Linked DNA regions of Homo sapiens: region 1 is linked to region 2. Evidence: fine-mapped expression QTL. A gene starts in region 2. The other region holds a variant in brackets. All regions are shown on one strand. Distances are between the middles of the regions. Region 1 overlaps SPTA1 (spectrin alpha, erythrocytic 1). Region 2 holds the start of OR10Z1 (olfactory receptor family 10 subfamily Z member 1).

The links. PIP is the estimated chance that this variant, and not a neighbour inherited with it, causes the effect.
Region 1: its variant is fine-mapped to the expression of OR10Z1 in spleen (GTEx, PIP above 0.99).

The regions. Positions count from the first base shown.
Region 1 is chr1:158,650,834-158,661,474 of GRCh38, reverse strand. It overlaps SPTA1 (spectrin alpha, erythrocytic 1), which reads left to right. Exons shown (of 52, transcript NM_003126.4): 18 at 66-188; 19 at 3,781-3,998; 20 at 4,819-4,911; 21 at 6,727-6,864; 22 at 8,050-8,201; 23 at 8,822-9,008; 24 at 10,007-10,108. Among named protein-coding and RNA genes, the nearest start is that of SPTA1, 31 kb to the left of the region's middle. RefSeq lists a silencer at 2,569-2,769. The variant C/A (reference allele first, on the strand shown) is at 6,737.
Region 2 is chr1:158,598,799-158,609,439 of GRCh38, reverse strand. It overlaps OR10Z1 (olfactory receptor family 10 subfamily Z member 1), which reads right to left and starts at 4,172. Exons shown (of 2, transcript NM_001004478.2): 1 at 4,039-4,172; 2 at 1-3,114. The coding sequence starts at 3,001. The coding sequence ends at 2,060.

The sequences.
Region 1 (10,641 bases), 52 kb before region 2:
AAGTGAGGTATGCTACTTCCATACACCAGGATAATCCGAAACTTTGAAATTCCTTTCCTCTGCAGGAAAGGACCTGATTGCTTCCAAAAAGCTTCTGAATAGGCATAGAGTCATCCTGGAGAACATTGCCAGCCATGAACCACGCATTCAAGAGATAACAGAAAGGGGAAACAAAATGGTAGAGGAAGGTATGTATGATTGAGATTCAGTTGGACAAAACATCACCAGGCCAGACCTCTGGGAAGAAGTTTGTACTATCCTAGGGTTTCAAGGGAATTTAAAAATATCTGACTCATTTTCCCACTTAATGCTCTTTTGGCATTTCTGACAAATGGGCATATGGTTTTGTTTGTATATTTCAATAACAGGAATATTCCAATCCTGTGAACCACTATTTGTTTGTAAAACAAAAATTATTAAAGTAAAATGTCTTTATCCTAATCATTAATATGCTTCTCTGTAGAAGTTCCAGAATTCAGAATCTAATTTACAAAGCCCTATGAATTAAATCAGGTCTCTTTTCCATATGGGAGCTTCCAGATCTGTGAAGGCAGATCTTAGTTATGCAGTGTTGAACTATTTTTATAGTAAACTGTTCCATTTCTTTAGCTTCTCACTTCATATAGTTTCAATACCTCTGTTCATTCTTTTCATCCAATTCAGAAATTCCTGATGCTTAAGTATGATGTTCAGTTTTGAACATCATAAGCCAGGTATGGTATAAGCAGTGCAGATTACACTGGGATTTTCCCTCTGTTGATTGAAGAATCAGTTGATGCCAACCAGTATCTAGTTTTCAAAAGTATAGGTTAAAATTCAGTTTGCTGAGAAAAACTTCAGATCCCACCTGAGTGATTCAAACCAACAACTGTAGAAATTCGCCTGTTTTTTAAATCTTCAACTATACTTGTAGATTTTGTCTTCTTCTCTTTTCAGTTCTATCAGTTTTTGTTTCTTATATTTTGAAGCTCTGTTATTACATGCATATACATTTAGTATTGTTATGTCTTTTTGATGAAGTTAAATCTTCACATTATGAAATATCAATCTTTATCCCTGGTGAAATTCTTTGTTCTGAAGCCTTTAGTAAACTAATAAAAGCCACATGAGCTATCTTTTGATTAGTTTTTGCATAGTGCATATTTCTCCATCTTTTTGCTTGCACTCTGTTTCTTATATTTAAAGTGAGATTCTTATAAATAGCATATAATCAGGCCTTGTTTTTATTCTATTCAATCTGGTAATTTTTCTTTTTTAATTGTGATATTTAGACAATTTACACTTAGTGCAATCATCAATATGGTTTATTTTAAATCTGGCAAGTTGCTATGTTTTTTCTTTTTATCTATCACTTTATGTCTCCTTTAGATCAATTTTGTATTTATTGTGATTCCATCTTATCTTCAAATTGGCCTATTAGCTACAATTGCTGTTTTGTGTTTGTGTGTGTATGTTTATTATAGCACAGTGATTTTGCCATTGTGATTTGGAGTCCTTTTAGGGTCTCTGACACACTCTTAGTGGATTCACAAAGTTAAAATATTTTCATAATAATGCTAAGACTAGGCCGGGCGCGGTGGCTCACGCCTGTAATCCCAGCACTTTGGGAGGCCGAGGCGAGTGGATCATGAGGTCAGGAGATCGAGACCATCCTGGCTAACAAGGTGAAACCCCGTCTCTACTAAAAATACAAAAAATTAGCCGGGCGCGGTGGCGGGCGCCTGTAGTCCCAGCTACTCGGGAGGCTGAGGCAGGAGAATGGCGTGAACCCGGGAAGCGGAGCTTGCAGTGAGCCGAGATTGCGCCACTGCAGTCCGCAGTCCGGCCTGGGCGACAGAGCGAGACTCCGTCTCAAAAAAAAAAAAAAAAAAAAAAAAAATAATGCTAAGACTATTATTTTCTTTTACAGACTTATTCTTTTATAAGCATAGAATGGAGTTTCCCAGAGCCTAGAGATGGGTGATGATGTCACTGTTCTGTCTAATGGAGTATATGCTTGTACATTCTTTTCTTTCAAAGCTTCTTGTTTTGATTTCTTATATGGGAACTATTAATCAGTCTAACTATATAAGCAAAAGATATTTTGCATTCTTAATAATTTTTAAAATTGTAAAGGGATCCCAAAAGCACAAATTTGAAAGCCACTATTCCAGGAATTAAAATATAGATTTTTTTAATCTATCATAGTCTAATTTCAAATAATATTATGCATTTCATGTTTAATATAAGATTCTTAAATTGATACTTCCATTTGTTTTCACCCTTGTGCTATTGGTGTCACATATTTTAAATTTTTACATGTTATATACCCTATAATTCAACATCATTATCTTTGCTTTGGTAGTCAACTGGTTTTGAATGAGATTATTAAATGAGAAAAAAATTCACCCTCATAGTTCCCATTTCCAGTATTCTTCATTCCTTTCTTTAGGTTAATATTTTCATTTGTATTATTTTTCTTCTGCTTGAAGAACTTCATCTAACATTCCTTATATTGCAGGTCTTCTATCCATAAATTCTCTAGACTTTTGTTCATCTAAAGGTCTTCATTCTACCTTCCTTTTTGAAATATATTTTCACTACATATAAAATTCTTGGTTGACAACTTCTTTCTTCCAGTATTTTAAAGATGTGCTGTCTTGTCTTCTGACTTTGCAAGCTTCTGATAAGAAGTCTGCTGTCATCATGATCTTTGCTCCTCTGTATGTAATATGTCTTTTTTTCCCCCTCTACCTGTTTTAAAGCTTTTCTCTTTATCACTGGTATTAAACAACTTGATTATGCTATAACTTGATGGAGTTTTCCTTGTTTATTCAGCTCGGTGATTGTTGAGCTCCTTGGATCTGTTTTGTTATGGTACTCCTGGGGCAGGGTTTATTAGGGGACTGATTTAGAGATGAAAGTAATATTGAGATATGTTACTCTTCTGAGGACCCTATCTCATGTATTACAATATTTTTCCACTTTGATGGGTGGAATGTTAACTATTTTCATTCTTAATTGAGGCCTAGAAGTTGTTTGTCCACTGCTTTTAAGTCACTCTTTTCTCACCCTCCAGGATTTCCTTATACATGTGTGCATATGAGTAATCAGACAAATACTCTAGGGAACTTCTCTGAAAAGGTCTATCTCTCTGTAACACCCTTCTCTTTGACACTCAACCTCACAAGTTCTAGTTCTCTTGTCTTTCCCAAATGTTGATCTCTGTGTCCTCAATTCAGTGTGACTGGTGGTTCTATCTGGGTTAGCTACCCAGGCCTACAGCCCAGAAACCTCCTGAGGCATAAGCTTGGCAATTATAAAATATATCTCATTTATTTCCCTTCTCTCAGGAATCAGAGTCCTCTCTCCATTGTCTGAAAATCATTTTATCTTACAGCTTTTCCTGTTTTCTAGTTGTTTAGGGTGGAAGAGCAACTCTCATAGTAATAACTCCTTTATGGGAAGAAATGGAAATCAGCTGATTTTTCTGCTTCATCTAAAGAAGACATGATTTTGGAACTCTCAGTCACCCACACATTAGTATTCTGTTTTCAAGTCTGTCTTTGTCAGACAATACCAACCCATTCACCACCACATGCATATCTCCCATTAGTACCTTTTGTTACTTAATCTCACTTAGGATATTTCAATTCCCAGGTAACTCAAGAAAAATATAACGTCGACTAAATAACATACCATTTTTATCACTTCCTTTCTCTTTTCCAAGGTACCAAAAGGATTAGAGTATGGTAAACACTCATGAGGATCATACTCACCTTTTCTATAATTACTCCATAGGACACTTTGCTGCAGAAGATGTGGCCTCTAGGGTCAAGAGTTTGAACCAGAATATGGAGTCTCTCCGTGCTCGAGCTGCTAGGCGACAAAATGATCTTGAAGCCAATGTCCAGTTCCAGCAGTACCTGGCTGACCTGCATGAAGCAGAAACATGGATCAGAGAGAAGGAACCTATTGTAGATAATACTAACTATGGTGCTGATGAAGAAGCAGCTGGGGTAAGGTGGGGGTGGGTTTAACATTGTGAATCCTCAACAAACGCAACCAAATTATCAATTTAGGGTTTGCTTAGGTTGTGGGACAGCTACAGATTCTGCCAGATTATTTGGGGTTTCCAGAGTGGTCGCCGTTGGCCTTCATCTGCTGAGACTCCCTCAGAGTTGACAGGAATCCCAAAAGATATGCTACATTTTTCTCATCCCATGGAGATTCATATACTCTTTAGAGATTATCTAAATCAAAAAAGTGTGATCAGAGTCATAGTCATAATCCGATCCTAAACTTTCCAGAGTAACCTTGAGCATTTATAAATTAATCATGGTTTTAAGATAGAGACACCTTAATTACTTGATTAAAATAAAATTGGACAGATATGTTGGGGCAAGAAGAACCACAAAGGTTATAATCACACTTTTTATCCATTTATTTGTTTTGCACATTGTCCCATAGGAAGCTGGTATAGTATTTCACAAACCTTTGGAACTAGAAATTATTGGTATGCATATTTTAAGTTACACTAATGTTTATCCTATAAAGTAACAGTATCAACAGCATCCTCTTTTCAGCTATAATCTGTGTTGATAAAAATACTTTTGCAAGTTTGAGTTAATTTTGATTTTAGTAAACATATTGAAATTATAATTTATTAATTCCTATTTCCTTCATGCTTGCAAATTTAGGGTTAAAAATAACTTTATGATAGATGGAAAGCAGCTTTTACCAGGATTTAAGACAAATAGCATAACCCAAAATAATAGTAGTTGAAATAATAGTGTTCCTCCTATATTCATTCTGATGATCTTCCATCAATAAATGCAGGCTCTTCTAAAGAAGCATGAGGCCTTTCTATTAGATCTCAATTCATTTGGAGACAGTATGAAAGCTCTGCGGAATCAGGCAAACGCCTGCCAGGTAAGACTAACTTAGCGATGACAGGATTCACACTTCCCACCACAAAGAAAAAGAAATTGTCTTTATTGCTGATTTTTTACTTTCTACAACCCCAAAAACAATGGCAAAGAAAACACTAAGTTCTATGACCCTTGTATGCAGGAACTGTAGCATCCACAATTTAGTCCAAAGGAGACTTTGTCCAAAAGAGGTTTTTGATAAATGGTATCATGTCTTCATTGATGTATTTTTGGCTTTCCTCTTTCCTTCCTTTTATATTTCTACCCTTCTTTCTTTCTTACTTTTCTTCATTTATGTCTCTCCTTCTTATCTTTCTTCTTTACTCCCTTCTTTTGTTTCTTAATTTTTAATGCCAAAACTTATTAAATGTCTACTATATGTAAGTATGAATAAAAAATCCTGATTTGCAGGAAAATTACAGTCTATTAGGAGGCCAGATGTTTAACAGTAAGTGCATATAATAGATGTATGAACAGGACAAAGAGTCTCAAAGAAAGGCCTCTTGTGTTCTCTTGAAATAACAGTACTGGAAAACAGGAAAATTTTTGTAAGCTAAGGGAAACCGCCTGATCTGAATTATTAAGGAAAGACAGATGGGTAGTTTACTGTGCAGAGAAAGAGGATAAGCGTTTTTCTAGTCAATAAACCATGAGAGCAAATGCACTGAGGCACAAAACAATCAAGTTTTGTGGAAAATGCAATTGGTTAAGAATGTGAGAATGGAAGATGCAATTGGTTGAGAATATGAGAATGGCTCAGGTACAGGGCAAAACTGGGTGTCATGAAGATTAATTGAACTGGAATCAAATAAATGTTATAACAATGTCTACTATATGTAGTGGTAGAAAAAAAGAGACACACTTCTTACCTTCAAGGAATTCTTTCTAATGAGAGGTTGTTAATCCACACATTCAGAGTAAACAAAAGACGTAGACTCAGTCTGTCAAATCAGTGTATATTTACAGACCTCCTATACTGTGCCTTCACCAGGCTCTGCACAGTGGGTGCCTAAACAAGAACAGAAGGATTTATATATTGTGTGGTATGAGGAAACATGTTACCTAAAGGAGATGAAATTAGAGGGCTCTGTCGGTGGAGGTGCATATTCAACTCCAACCTGAGGAAGGGGTGGGTCATTCCTTAGGAAGAGGGGTTATGTTTTGCTTGATTTCTCAGAGACATGAAATTGGCAGAAAGTAAAAATCAGAGAAAATTCTACCTTAGAATGCAGGCTGCTTACTAAACTGAGACACAAGATACTTTTAATGATCTCAGTTAATGTTCTCAGTTTTTAAAATTCTGTGGCCTTTCCTGTGCTATTGATCACTCATATCTCAAATAGAAGGTCCGGAGCTCCTGACATAGTAACTTAAAGGCCAGAAGGAGTGGGAAGAATTATCACTGGAGGTACAGGGAAAGGTGACGACAGAGAGTGGGTCTTTTCACTTTCTCAAACAATTTTTTGAAATGTTGATGTGTATAATCCTGTTGGACCTTCTTAAGGGAGTACACTTCTTAAAATGTACTCCTCCCATTTTAAGAACTGATGGCTTAGAGCATTTAATACGTTTCTGACAAATTATGTATTTCCTTCCTTGCTTTGGGTTTATAGTTCCCAACCTGCCTGTCCCCGATAAGTGTCAGAATGGAGCAGTCTCTCTGAAGACCACATACTTTAATCTCTGCAGCCACGTAAGAGGTTCCAGCCAGAGGCTCTTTTCTCCTGGGAAGCCTAAAGGACTACTCACCCCTGGTAAGCTGTACAGGGAGATATTTCCAGTGCGTGACTGACACCTGCTTCCTGTTTTTATTCAGCAACAACAGG[C/A]TGCACCAGTGGAGGGAGTTGCTGGAGAACAAAGGGTCATGGCTTTATATGACTTCCAGGCCCGCAGCCCCCGAGAAGTCACCATGAAGAAAGGTGATGTCTTAACGCTGCTCAGTTCCATCAATAAGGTGACTTTTCCTTCTAATCTTTCCATCAAAAAGTGGCTCTTTCAGAACCATCTCTCCCAATCCTGCCAGATATTCATATTTTTACCATCTAACATTTATTTTATTATTTTATTTCTTGAATAACTATAACTGATTAGGTAGTATTTTTCCTGTAGATATTTTGCAGGATCCTACACATATCTTTTGGAATTATAATCCCAATGTTGCAGTTAAAATCATAAAGAATTGAAGTTATATAATTAGCCCAAAGATATAGAAAGTATGAGTGGAAATTCTATAATATATTTAAAGGGCTAAGCTGTCTCTTTCTTTCTTCCTCTTTGCTTGTTCCTCTTCTGTGCCAGTATTTCTAGTGATAAAATAACAATGTCTGGGGTTAGAAGGAGCCTACCAAAAGATGAGTCTTTTGTCAACTTGATTTTCTTTAGATCTTGTGCCTGGAAGAACAGTGATAAAATATTGGTTGAGATTTTTAAATATATTTTTCATAAAAACTGAAGTAATTTTTTATACTCTGATACCTAATTAATCTACAAAAATTCTTAAGAAGAAAAGAAAATAGTTTGGGCTATAGTTATTCCAAAGACAAGTAAATGTTTGGAGCGGCAGATGTTTCATTATCAAATAATGTGTGCCAGTCCATTTTTTCTTTGTCTAGGCCTCTTCATTATTTTTTGAGGAAATTAGCCTCAGGGTTTTGGTAGATGTGGCAACAGTTCAAAAATAAAAAATAAAGTAACACTCAGGTATATGAATGTCAGAGCAATTCACATTTTTCAGACCTCTGCAAGAAGAATAGAAGAGAAGAATTTTTGTGCAATATCCTCTTACACAGACGCTCCACTGCCAAGAAATCCAGCTAGAGCCTGGCTCCATGTGTTTTTTGTAAATTCCTCATGAACAAAGTGCCCCATCATTAAAAGAGCTGTCTTGGGTGTTTGAAAATCTCTCCAAAGTTAAGGGTCTAACATTAGGTATCAGATTACTTGATTTCAGGGGCTTGTCTATGCAATTCTTCATTTCATTTCTTGGTCATATATGAAAATTATGTGCCACTCATTAGACATGGTTAGCTTATCTTTGCCATTAACCTGTGCCTGGGCCAAGAGACTTAGTGTTGAAGTCTCTCCCGTTTGTTGCTTTTCCAAGAATTAATGACGGAGTGGGGATCTGCTCTCCCTTCAGGACTGGTGGAAGGTGGAAGCTGCTGATCATCAGGGCATTGTCCCAGCTGTCTATGTCAGAAGACTGGCCCACGATGAGTTCCCGATGCTCCCACAGCGGCGACGAGAAGAGCCAGGAAACATCACCCAGCGCCAGGAGCAGATTGAGAACCAGTAAGTTCTGGAGCCTGGAGAACTGAACAGTATTTGGTCAGACATTTTTCGCCAAAGGCATTTCTTCTCATGACCCTGCATCTGTTAGATTTGAGATGCCACAGAAAATCTGAAGATTTTAAGAATCGAAAGTAAACCTAGAATCTTTTAAATGTTTCGGTTTCTTTTTGAGGAAAGGCAACCCCAGAATCATTCCATCAATTTCCTGAGGTCATACACTTCACAGAGCTCTTCTGATTCCCTGCCCCACATTCTTTCAAGGTTATTAAAGTCTCCTGACATCTATATGAACTTTGTTTACTATGCCAGGCTTTTCATATCCAATTGTCAGTTACCATGTAAAAATGTCACTTTTATGAAATGGGAAAGGAATGTTGCCAGTCATACTATTGGGTCACTGGCATTTTTACTATTTTTAAATGCAATCCTATGTGTTTATCTTTTTGCCCCCAAGGCTGTTTTCCTTCTAAGTTTATTTCCTCCTCTCTTCTACTATTCTTTTGCTTTTGATTTGTTTTCCCTTTCATTTTTGTTCCTTCTTTCTCTATGTTTGTCACTCAGCCTCTACTCTTCTGTATTTTCTCCTTCTTTTATTCCACTTTTCCCAATTCTCCATCCAGATACCGCTCCCTCTTGGATCGGGCAGAAGAACGCAGACGTCGTCTATTGCAACGTTATAATGAATTTTTATTGGCCTATGAGGCAGGAGACATGCTGGAATGGATTCAAGAGAAAAAGGCAGAAAACACTGGAGTGGAACTAGATGATGTTTGGGAGCTGCAGAAAAAGTTTGATGAGTTCCAAAAGGTGAGAAAGAGGAACCTTCTCTTGAAGGTTGCCATTGTTTGCTTTTATCCCTCAGCATATTCTACATGATCTTTTAATTTATTTCACACTTGTTAAATATTCTCCCCAAAGCTATTGGCAACTCTGTGGCTGAGATCTCCCTCTAGGTATTGTAGTTGCTAATAATTGGAAGGGAAATGCAGAGAAAACTAGTTACCCTAACTGCAGCCTTCAGTGCCTGCCACTCCAAAATCCTCCCTGGAGTGCTGGTCTTCCTGAATTCTTCACAACTTGCCCTATACTATACTTTGTTTCCAGTGCCCAGGTTGGGATAAGGTATTGTTGTACCATGTGTAAAGTTTAATTATGGGGCAGAGTTTGGGGTGGAAGAAGGAAGAACCTGACTTGACAAACAATTTCTAATTTTTTGCCTACCTAAAACCCTTTCAATATTCTTTCTTCCCTTAGATTTTTTTCCATTATCTTAACTAGCAGTGAGTGTACATTCCTTCTTTTCTTTTTCTTTTGATATCTTCCACGTGGGATTTAACACACACACACGCGCACACACACACACAGAGAGAGAGAGAGAGAGAGAGAGAGAGAGCACTCCCTAGAGCTGTTTCTTACAATATCTCATAATATAGGCAGATAATAACTCAGTTAAAGAAATCTTTAAAGCTGGAGTTTGTACTGGTAGAAAAGGATGTTACACAGCTCAGGTATCAATCCCTCTAATGGTATAATTTAATCCAGGGGAGATTTTAAGAAATCTAGAAAAATGGCTGTGCTTCATACTACAGATAAATAATAGTTATCTTGACAAGTTTTGGACAGCCACTAGGTGTCAAGATCTTTAAGGATACTCTTCTCAGTGGTGGATTGGAGGAGAGGAGCTTGGTGTGTATTACGGTGATGTAGGGGCAGAGATGGACAGGTAAGTATGGTAGATTCTTGATGAGGGGATTTACACTGCTTTGGATGAATTTACACTGCTTTGGATGAATTTTCCCATTCAGGATTTGAATACCAATGAGCCTCGGCTAAGGGATATCAACAAGGTAGCTGATGATCTACTATTTGAAGGACTTCTAACACCAGAAGGAGCTCAAATCCGGCAGGTAACTAAGGCTCCCTCCATTCCTCCTCACTACCAGGTTGGGCTTTGGGAGTCCTCATTTCACTTCAACATGGAACTTTATATTCTGCAGACCCACTAGAACATGCAGAAGGTAACAGCAGTATGGAATTAGCTACAGGAAAGGCCAAAGACAATAGCCCAAATAGTCCCTGTATTTTTGTTGTCTAAATTAACTTAATTAAAGCAGGCTCATTTGTTAACATATATTGAGTGTCCTCCATGCCCTCACATATGTCATTTCATGGATGGGGTGGGAAAGGAGACAAAAGTATTGGTAGCAGAAATTAAGATGTAGCTTTAAAAGGCAGGATTAGGAGGTTTAGATAATATTACACTGGACATTAGGTAAATTAGATTTACATCATAGCTGTATTCTTGTCTGACTGTGTGTCCTCAGACAAGTCTCTTCATTTCTAAAAACCTCAGTTTCTATATCTGAAAGCAAATATTGGATAGCACAATATCCAAATTACAATATCCAAACCTCCTCTTAATCTTCTGTACCAGGCTACA
Region 2 (10,641 bases):
CTCACATGGCCTCAGTGCAATGAGGCATTACTTCTTCCAATATTGAGAACTTCAGAGTAGATGGCCTTTCTCCCCTGATGAGGCCCTTTTGGCTATCTGACTAACTCATCTACTTGTCTTCATCCTGTTCTCTTCTCTGAGCTCTAGCTTCCTTCCTCTCAAATTGTTTTCATCAAATTCCAATTAGAGGATGTATTTCTTTCCTGAAAGCATGAAAAAATATGGATTTCTGTCTGAAAAATATCTTCTCGGCCTAAGGTCTTTCCTTGTCTCTCAAGCCATGCCCCACTTCTATCTCACTGCCAAATCCTGTGAATTCTACCTTCTCAAAATCTCATGTTTGTGATTTCCTTCAGTCTCTGAATGTCACTATCCATATTCAAGCCTCTTTGCCTTTTTTTAAGCTGATATCCATGGGTTTCTTGCTGATCTCCTTGCCTCTGGTTTCTCTCTACTGAAATCTATCATCCCCTTTGCTGCTGGATTAATCTTCCTGAATCCCTTCCCAGATGCCTCTCTCTGTTCAACGTTTTACTGTGCCTTATCTCCTATAGACAAAAGGACCATGTCTGAAGCAAGGTATTCAAATTATTTCAACAAGTAAGTCATGACTCAAACTAACTTCTCAGCATCATTTGTGAGTTGTTTCCAGCCCCTCTGAATAACTCACACACATTAAACTAGGCTTATATTGTCTTACCATCAAGCCTTTGGCTATTACATTCTCTCTTCTGAGAATGTACTTTCTCCCCAGTCAGTGCATTCAAAGCTCACCCATCCTTTAGGAACAAGTTCAGATACTATTTAAGACATGAAGTCTTCTCTGATCCTCCACCTAGAGTAAACTCTACCTAAACTAAAAGCCAATATCTTTTTCCTTCACACATTTTAATAGTAGCAACTGGAATTTATTGGACGATCGCTATGATCCAAGGGTTGTGCTAAATTCTTTGTATGCATGATCCTGTTTAGTCACCAACCATTGTAAAGATAAGACTCGGAAGCTGAAAAAAATGTTAAATAACTTACCTAGAGTCACACAGCTAGTAAGTTGAAGAGTTTGGATTCAAACTCCTGCCTGACGGTCTTGTGAGTTCATTACACTTTCTCTAATAATGTCCGCCGCTATATATAACCACATTATATGTGGAAAGTGGAATAGGCAGAATAGATAGTTCTGCAATAGATTCAAAAGAACAGTATCCAATTTGATAAGCGACCCAAATGAGAAAGGTCTTTGACACTCAAGATTCTGAAGCTACCAGGGAACATTAACAGTTATAAAAAAAAATAGGAAGTAAATATATTTTCTGAAATAGAGTGCACCCAGCTTGGAAAATCAATCAAAACAAAAAGGGCAAAGTAACAGAGTCAGAGATAGTGAGGACAACTATATAAAAAGATGATTCCATGTTTTTGCTACTGTCAATAGCACAATGAGGAATGTATAAGCACATGTGCCCCACTGTATATGAAATAATAGTTGAAATTAAAAAAAATAAAAACATAAAAAGATGAAAGACACCCAGTGGGAGTAAAAATGACCCACCTGTTCATTTAACAAAGCTTTAAACTAACCTGTCAAGCTGATATTCCCCAGGTTTCAAATCTTGGAAGAACATTACAGGTCAAATAGTCTAATTATGTAATGATTTTAGAAATCTCTACAGTATCCCTGATGGGCTCCAGCCAGCCCTGCCTTGAACTTGAACACTCCAAACTTCCCTCATTTTGTTCAGCTCAATTAAAAAATTCTTGATTATCTTAATTAAATTTTTAATTCTCAATGGGTTTCAGTAACTAGGGGTGGCATCTAGGAGGCTGAAAGTTAAAATTCAGATTTTGGGCTCATTTTGAGTTGTGCACAGTGAGCAGAGCAGGAAGCCCCGCCTCTGCATTCCAAGCAGTCAGGGGGAAGGGCAAGAGGCAGGATAAGGCTTTCCCAGAAGATTGGGGGTAGGACAGCTTTGGCCTGAGGCCTTGAATACCTGGCCCTTTGGCTTGGGTTCTTGGTCTATGCCCAGCCTACACAGAAGAAAGTGTCCTATTGGGGTAACCTTCATCCTTTACCCAGCAATCTCCCTCTGAAAGCATTCCTCAGAGCTGTCTGTATAGCCCTATTCCTTAGACTATAAACAATGGGATTAAGGAGGGGGGTCACTACAGTATAGGTCATGGCAATAAGCTGATCTCTCTCAAGAGAGTAGCTGGCTTTGGGCCTCAGGTACACGAAGGAAGCACAGCCATAATGAATAATGACCACTGTAAGGTGCGAGGCACAAGTGGAGAAGGCCTTCTTCTGCCCCTCAGCAGAGGGGATCCTCAGTATTGCTGCCAAGATGTAGGCGTAGGAGATGGTGATGAAGAAGAAGGAGACCAAGAGGACCAAAAGACTGAGGATAAAGATCCTCAGCTCACTCGGGCCTGTATCTCCACAGGCTAGGCTCAGCACAGGTGGCGTGTCACAAAAAAAGTGCTGGATTTCATGGGAGCTGCAGAATGAGAGGTGGAAAATAACTAGTGTCATTCCCAGTCCAAAGAGGTATCCAGTCAGGAAGGAAGTAATGACCAGCTGGGCACAGAGGGTAGGATTCATGTGGCTGGCATAGTGGAGTGGAGCACAGATGGCCACATATCTGTCAAAGCCCATGGCAGCCAGAAGGAAGCAGTTAGTACAGGCCCATGAGGCAGAAAAGAACATCTGGGCAGCACAGCCCACATAGGAGATAGCCTGGTCCCCCCCAGCCAGGCCAGAGAGCATTCTAGGGATGATGCCCAAAGTGTAGCAGGTCTCAGAGAAGGATAGGAAGGAAAGGAAGAGGTACATGGGGGTGTGCAGATGGCTATCCAGCCTGATGGCTATGATAATGAAGACATTGCTGGTCAGAGTGACTAGATACAGAGAGAGGAACAAGGCAAAGAGAAGGAGCTGCAACTCCCCAGAACTGGAGAAGCCCAGGAAGACAAAATCCCTCCAGGAGGTTACGTTGGTCTGCCCCATTCTGAGAGGTATATCCCTGATAGATTTGTTGATTTCTTCCACCTTGCCAGTAGATGCCTAACTTCTTTAAAAGGTGGATGATATGGATTCTTTTTCTCTTGTTCCTGTTGCAACTTAAAAAGGCAGCTCTGATTTAGACTCTACTCAAACTTCAAAAAAGTATTTGTTAAATTAGACACAAATGTATGGGTCCATTCCCATATGACTGTATGTACATATACACATACACAGATGCACAATCACAGACATTCATATGCACATACTTGCACACAAACATATGTATGACTACATACATGCAGGTGTATATATGCTTTATAGCATTCACACATAATTATGCATATCTTACACATTCAAAACTATAAATTATACATTTGCTATTAATGGCCATATCCACAAATATATCAGGCAGGCACATACATTACAAACACATATGTATATAGATAGCATGCAAATTCGTAGATACACACATCACATATAAAGATACACACACCACATATACGTTTATATTGTCTTTATACATACACTATCACATAAGAATACACATATGGACACACCCATATTGCTTGTTAGAACTTTGTGGGGAGGTGGGGAAACTTGATCTTGATGGATTTTGTTTTATAGATCAGGTAACAAAGATCAAGAGAGGTGAAGTGACTTTCTTGAAGTCACACAGAACCAGTATTAGAAAACAAGTATGGTGACTCTTAATCTATCCTTATTTTCCCCATACAATGATGACTCTCTTTAGAGACTATGGAACACACACTAATATGAATATGGAGTAAGAAATAGTTAGTTCAACGATAATCACTTTATCTATACAACCCCTCTTCCAAGCCATTTTACCCTTTCCAAATTCCTTGGGCAGAGTAGGGCAGGCTTCTTTTACCTGTGAATCTATGTTAAGCACGGAAGAAAATGTCAGGGCTCAAGGCAGGTTGTGCAGCATGCATCTCTCAGCCCAAAATCAGGTACTGCTGCCTCCAAAAACTCTACTCTAAACCAAAGCATAAGTCAAGGGAGGATTCTCCACTCACCTGAACAGACTCACGCTGACCTGAAGAGGCTCACAAAGCAAGTCCTGCCTTTTAGCTCCCATGCACTAGACTGCCTCCCAGCAGGATAGACCACAGGAGAAAGACTTGAGATGCATCTTGAAATCTCCTACTCTGAGCAGTGTGATGTCTCCAAATGATACAAAGAAATCTTCTTCCACACCCCTAGTTCCAGGTGGTAAATAATACCTTCTTCCATCCAAACAGCTTCTTTCTCAGAGGATTCTCTAGTCCCAATGGGTGCTGTCTCAGGAAGCACGTCTAATTGTGTTTTTTTGTCATTAGTTGGGAATATCCTTTTGGGGAAAGCAGAAAGGGGAATGTGAACAAGAGATACTAGGATCATGATTTAAATAATAAGTATTGTATCATGTGCTAAGTATTAAACACTAATTTTTTTCACAACATAAATCTCTTTTAAAATTTACAGCAGCCTAGTGAGATAGTGTTAATAGTTACACTTTATAGAAGTGTAACTGAGCCTAATAGACTTTAAATAACTGGTCCAAAATTACAGAACTAAGGACTTATGCTTATAAATTTATACCATAAGATGTATAATTTAAAAATGAAACAAGAATTCAGCTGCTCCCCACTGCTGTCTCAAGAGCTTGATATAACTACTTTGGATATGTGCCTGGTTTCAAAGTCATTCTGAAGAAAATTCTGATCTCTTTCAGGGTCAATTTATTCCTGCATCCTCATTTGTCTATTCCATTTTTTTCTCAGATGCATCATTTTAAAAGCAACTTTACCTTATTTTCATCCTCTTCCTTTGTTTCAACAATGCTGCAATATCTGCATCCAGACAAGTGATATACTTTCCACCTTCAGATTGTTCTGAAACCTTAAAATGTCCCAAAAGTCTACCTACAACTAGGTTAATCTGACTTGTCACTCTTAAAATGCATGTCTCTCTGATATACTTAATGGTGTAAATAGTTGCACCTTCTACATACATCTTCACTCATTGACTGATTTAATAGAAACAACAATGATAATTGGCAACATGTATTCATCAACAGATATTGACTAATTTCATTATATAAATTTAATAAAATATGTGAGTATTATTATTATTCCTATTTTTCCAATAAGAACACTGAGGCATGAAAAATATTAAATAACTTACCCAAGATAACACAGTCAATTGGTGAGGCAGTAGTAAGTAGACTTAAGAAGCCTTTCTTTTGTTTACCATACTATTCCCAGGACCCTGCTTTGGGGTTAGGAAGATGAGTTAGATGTTGGAACAAAATAACAATTGATTTTATAACTATTTTTCTTGCAATGTTGTTTTAGTTGTTGATCTAGCAATTACAGCATGTATTTTTAACATAATCTACTTAAACTTAACATTGAATTATTTCCAGTTAAATGTAGAAAATTTGCAATGTCTTAGTCCCAATTATGTAAATCTACTAACACGTTGTCATAATTTTTGAACAGGCATATGCTATTATAAAGAAATTAAGAGAAAATTATGTTTGTGCAAATCTTTTATATTTAACCAATATTTATCATTTTCAGTGCTCTTCAATCTTTCTTGTATAATCAGATTTTATGTTCCTTCATCCTTAAGGATTTCTCTTAGTATTTCTTATGGTGTAGTTTTGCTAGCAATACATTATCTCCATTTTTATTTATTTGAAAATATCTTCACTTTTTCTTTCTTTGTGAAATGTATTTTTACTGGATATAAAATTACTAGTCATCAGGGTTTTTTTCTTTCATCTTTCTATGCCATTTTCAATGTCTCTGTCTTCAAAAGTTTCTGTTGAGAATGCTACCATTAATTGTATCATTTTTCCACTCATATAATGTGTCATTTTTCTCTAGTTGCTTTAATATTTTCTCTTTACTATAAGAAATTTAACTAAAATGTACTTGAATGTACCTTATGTGTTTCTCTTACTTGTGGCTTCTTGAATATCTTGAACTAGTGAATTAATATTTTCCACCAAATTTGGGAAGTTTTCAGCTGTTATTTCTTCAATATTTTTCTTTATCTTTTTCTTTTTTGTTTGTACAAATGTATAGGGTACATGAGATATTTTGTTATACGTACATAATGCATAGTAATCAAGTCAGGGTATTCAGGGCTTCTGTCACCCTAGTACATACATTTTTGTTAAGTATAGTCACCCTATTCTGATATCAAACATTACTCCATCTCATTGTATATTGGCACTGGGTGATGGTTATTATTGTGTCAGCTTGATTGGATTGAAGGATGCAAAGTATTGTTCCTGGGTGTCTCTGTGAGGGAGTTGCCAAAGGAGATTAACATTTGAGTCAGTAGACTAGAAGAGGCAGACCCAGCCTCAATGTGGGTGGGCACAATCTAACCAGATGCCAGCATAGCTAGGATAAAGGCAGAGGGGTGTGGAATGACTAGACTGACTGTCTTCTGGCCTCCATCTTTCTCCCATGCTGGATGCTTTCTGACCTCAAACATCGGACTCCAAGTTCTCCAGCTTTTGGACTCTTGGGCCTGCACCATTAGTTTGCCAGGGGCTCTCAGGCCTTCAGCCACAGACTGAAAGCTGCACTGTCGGCTTCCCTACTTTTGAGGTTTTGGGACTCGAACTGGCTTCCTTGCTCCTCAGCTTGCAGATGACCTACTGTGGGTCTTCACCTTGTGATTGTGTGAGTCAATACTTCTTAATAAACTCCCTTTCATATATGCATCTATCCTATTAGTGCTGTCCCCCTAGAGAACCCTAACACTATTTAACAGAATTATCTTCATGCAACCGTTCATCCTGACCCTTCCCAGTATTTTTAATTTATCTTTCCACTACCTACTTCCATGGAATCAAATTTTTTAGCTCCCACATGAAAGTGAGAACATGCAATATTTACTTTTTGTGTGTCTGGTTTATTTTACTTAAGATAATCACCTCCAGTTCCATCCATGTTGCTGCACATGGCATGATTTCATCCATTTATGCCTGAATATTATTTCAATGTGTATATCTACCACATTTTTGTTTTTTATGCATTCATCCATCTATGCACACTTAGACTGATTGCATATCTTTGCTGTTGTAAATAGTGCTACAATAAGCATGTGAGTGTAGTAGTTATCCCTTTGATATAGCCATTTCTTTTCCTTTATGTAGATATCTAGTAGTGAGATAGCTGGATAAAATAGCTGAGAACTCTCCATACTGTTTTCATAGTGACTGTACTTGTTTACATTCCTACTAGCAAATGTGTGAAAATTTCTCCACATCCTCACCAACATGTTATTTTTAATGATAGCCATTCTGACTGAAGTAAGATGATATCTCACTGTGGTTTTGATTTGCATTTATCTGATGATTTTTGATGTTGACCATTTTTTCATATACTTGTTAGCCATTTGTATGTCTTCTTTTGAAAAATGTTTATTCATATTCTTTGCCCACTTTTTAATGGGTTTATTTGGGTTTTTTTTCCTGCTGAGTTGTTTGAGTTTCTTGTATATTCTGGATATAATTTCCCTGCAAGACAAATATTTTGCAAATATTTTCTCCCATTCAAAAGATTGCTCTCTGCTTTGTTGATTGTTTCCTTTACTGTGCAGAAGCTTTTTAGTTTAATGTGGTCCCACTTTTTTGTTGTTGTTGTCACCTGTTCTTTTGATGTCCTAGTCATAAATTATTTGCCTAAACCAATGTCCAGGAAATATTTCTCTAGGTTTTGTTCTAATGTTTTATTATTTAAGGTCTTATGTTTAAGTCCTTAATCAATTTTGAGTTTATGGTGAGAAATAGGGGTCTAATTTCATTCTTCTGCATGTGGCTATCCAATTTTTCCAGCACCATAAATTGAAGAACATGTCCTGTCTTCAATGTAAGTTCTCATTGGCTTTGTTGAAGATCAGTTGGCTCTAAGTATGTGACTTTCTTTCTGGAATTTCTATTCTATTCCATGGGATTTTGTGTCTATTTTTCTACAACAGCATGCTGTATTGGGTACTATATCCTTGTAATACATTTTGAAGTCAGGTAATGTGATGCCTCCAGCTTTGTTCTTTTTGCCCTGAATTGCATTAGCTGTTCAGGCTTGTTTGGGGCTTTATATAAATTTTAGTATTTTTTTTCTTGTTCTTTGCTATTATTTCTTCCCATCCATGAGCACTGGATGTTTTTCCATTTGTTTGTGTCATCTTCAATTTCTTTCATCAATGTTTTATAGTTTTCCTTGTGGAGACCTTTTACCTCCTTGGTTATATTTATTCCTCTGTATTTTTTGGAGGAGGGCAGCTATTATAAAGGTTATTGCCTTTTGATTTCGGTATCGGCTAGATAATTATTGATACATAGAAATGCTACTGAATTTTCTACATTGATTTTGTACCCTGCAACTTTACTGAATTCAAATCTAGTAGTTTTTGCTAGAGTCTTAAATTTTGCTATATATAAGATTATATCAACAGCAGAGAGGGACAATTTGACTTCCTCTTTTCCAATTTGGATGCCTTGGTTTCTTTCTCTTTCCTGATTTCTCTGGCTGAAACTTCCAGTATCATGTTGAATAGTTTTGGGGAAAGTGGGCATCCTTGTTTCATATCTTAGAACAAAGGTTTTCACATTTTCTTCATTCATATGGTGTTAGCTGTGGGTTTATCATATATAGCCTTTATTATTTTGAGATATGTTGCTCCTATGCCTACTTTGTTGAAAGTTTTTATCATAAAGCAATGTTGAATTTTAGCAAATGCTTTTTCTACATCTATTGAGATGATCATATGGTTTTTATGCTTCATTCTATTAATGTGAAGTATCATGTTTATTGATTTGCATGTGATGAACCATCCTTGCATGCCCAGTATAAATATGTTGATCATCATATATATATTTCTTATGAGCTCCAAGATTCCATTTGCTAGTATTTTGTTGAGGATTTATGCATTTGTGTTCATCAGGATATTGGCCTGTGGTGTGCGTTGTTGTTGTGTCCTTATCTGGTTGTAATATCAAGGTGATGCTGGCCTCATAGATGAGTTAGAAAAAAATTTCATACTCTTTAATTTTTTTAGAATAGTTTCAGAAGAATTGGTATTATTTCTTTGTACATTTAGTAGAATATACCTGTGAATATATGTGCTCCTGGGCTTATCTTTGTTGTGAGACATTTTATAACCGATTCAACTTCCCTACTTGATATTGGACTGTTCAGGTTTTCTATTTCTTCCTGACTCAACCTTGGGAAGTTCTATATTTCCAGGAATCTATCCATTTCCTTTAGGTTTTCCAGTTTGTCAGCCTATATGTCAGCATAGTGTGTGATGATCTTTTGAATTTCTGTCGTACCAGTTGAAATGTCTTCTTTTTAATGTCCAATTTTGTTAGAGTCTTCTCTCCTTTTCTTCATTATTTGAGCTAGTGGTTTATCAATTTTGTTTGACTCTATAGAAAACTAACTTTTCATTTTGTTGACCCTTGTAATTTTTTAGTCTCTATTTCATTTACTTTTGCTCTGATCTTTATTCCTTCTTTTATTCTGCTAAATTTAAGTTTGCATTGTTCTTGCCTTTCAAGTTTCTTGAGGTGTGTTGTTAGACTGTTAAGTTATCTTTCTATTTTTTTTTTGATGTAGGCATTTATTGCTATAAAATTCCTTCTTAGCACTACTTTTGCTGTATCCCACTGGTTTTGGTGTGTTGTGCTTCCATTTTCATTTGTTTCATGATTTTTTAAAAAATTCTTAAGTTTTTCCTTAAGGCCAGTTTTTTTCTAAGCAGCATATAGTTTGATCATGTTTTTTTTAATCCATTCATTCATTCTATATTTTTAAATAGAAAATTCAATCCATTTACATTCAAGGTTATTAGTAATTGTGAGGCTGTCATATCATTAGTTGTTTTCTGTTTGTTTTCTATATTCTTTATTGCTTTCTTTTTCCTATATTGACTACCTTTGTGATTTGGTGGATTTCTGTAGTGGTATCATTTGAGTCTTTTCTCTTTATCTTATGTGTGATTACTTTACCAGTGAGTTTTATACCTTCATGTGTTTCCATTATGTTCTTTTGCTTCCAGGTTTAGGACTTCCTTGAGCATTTCTTTTAGGGTCAGTTCAATGGCAATGATTTTCCTCAGCATTGGCTTATCTGGGAAAGACTTTATTTCATCTTCATTTATGAAAGATAATTTTGCTTGACATAGTATTATTTGTTGTTAGCTTTTTTTCTCCTTTCCACACTTCGAAAATATCCTATTCTTTACTGGCCTATAAGGTTTCTACTGAGCAATCCACTCTTTATCTAATGGTTTTTCCTTTATAGATTACTAGATGCTTTTCTCTTCCAATTTTTAGAATTCACCTTTCTTCTTTGACTTTAGAAAATATGACTATAATGTGCCATGGGGAAGCACTTTTCCCATTATATCTTGCTAGGGATCACTGAGCCTTTTATATCTGAATGTCTACATATCTTGCTAAAGTAGGAAATATTTTATCTATCATTTGTTAAAATAGGTTTTTGAATTCTTTTATTGCCTCTTTGCCTTAGAAGACACTGATAATTTGAATATTTGATTGCTCTATATTATCTCAAATGTTACAAAGTCTTTGCTCATTTTTTTATTATTTC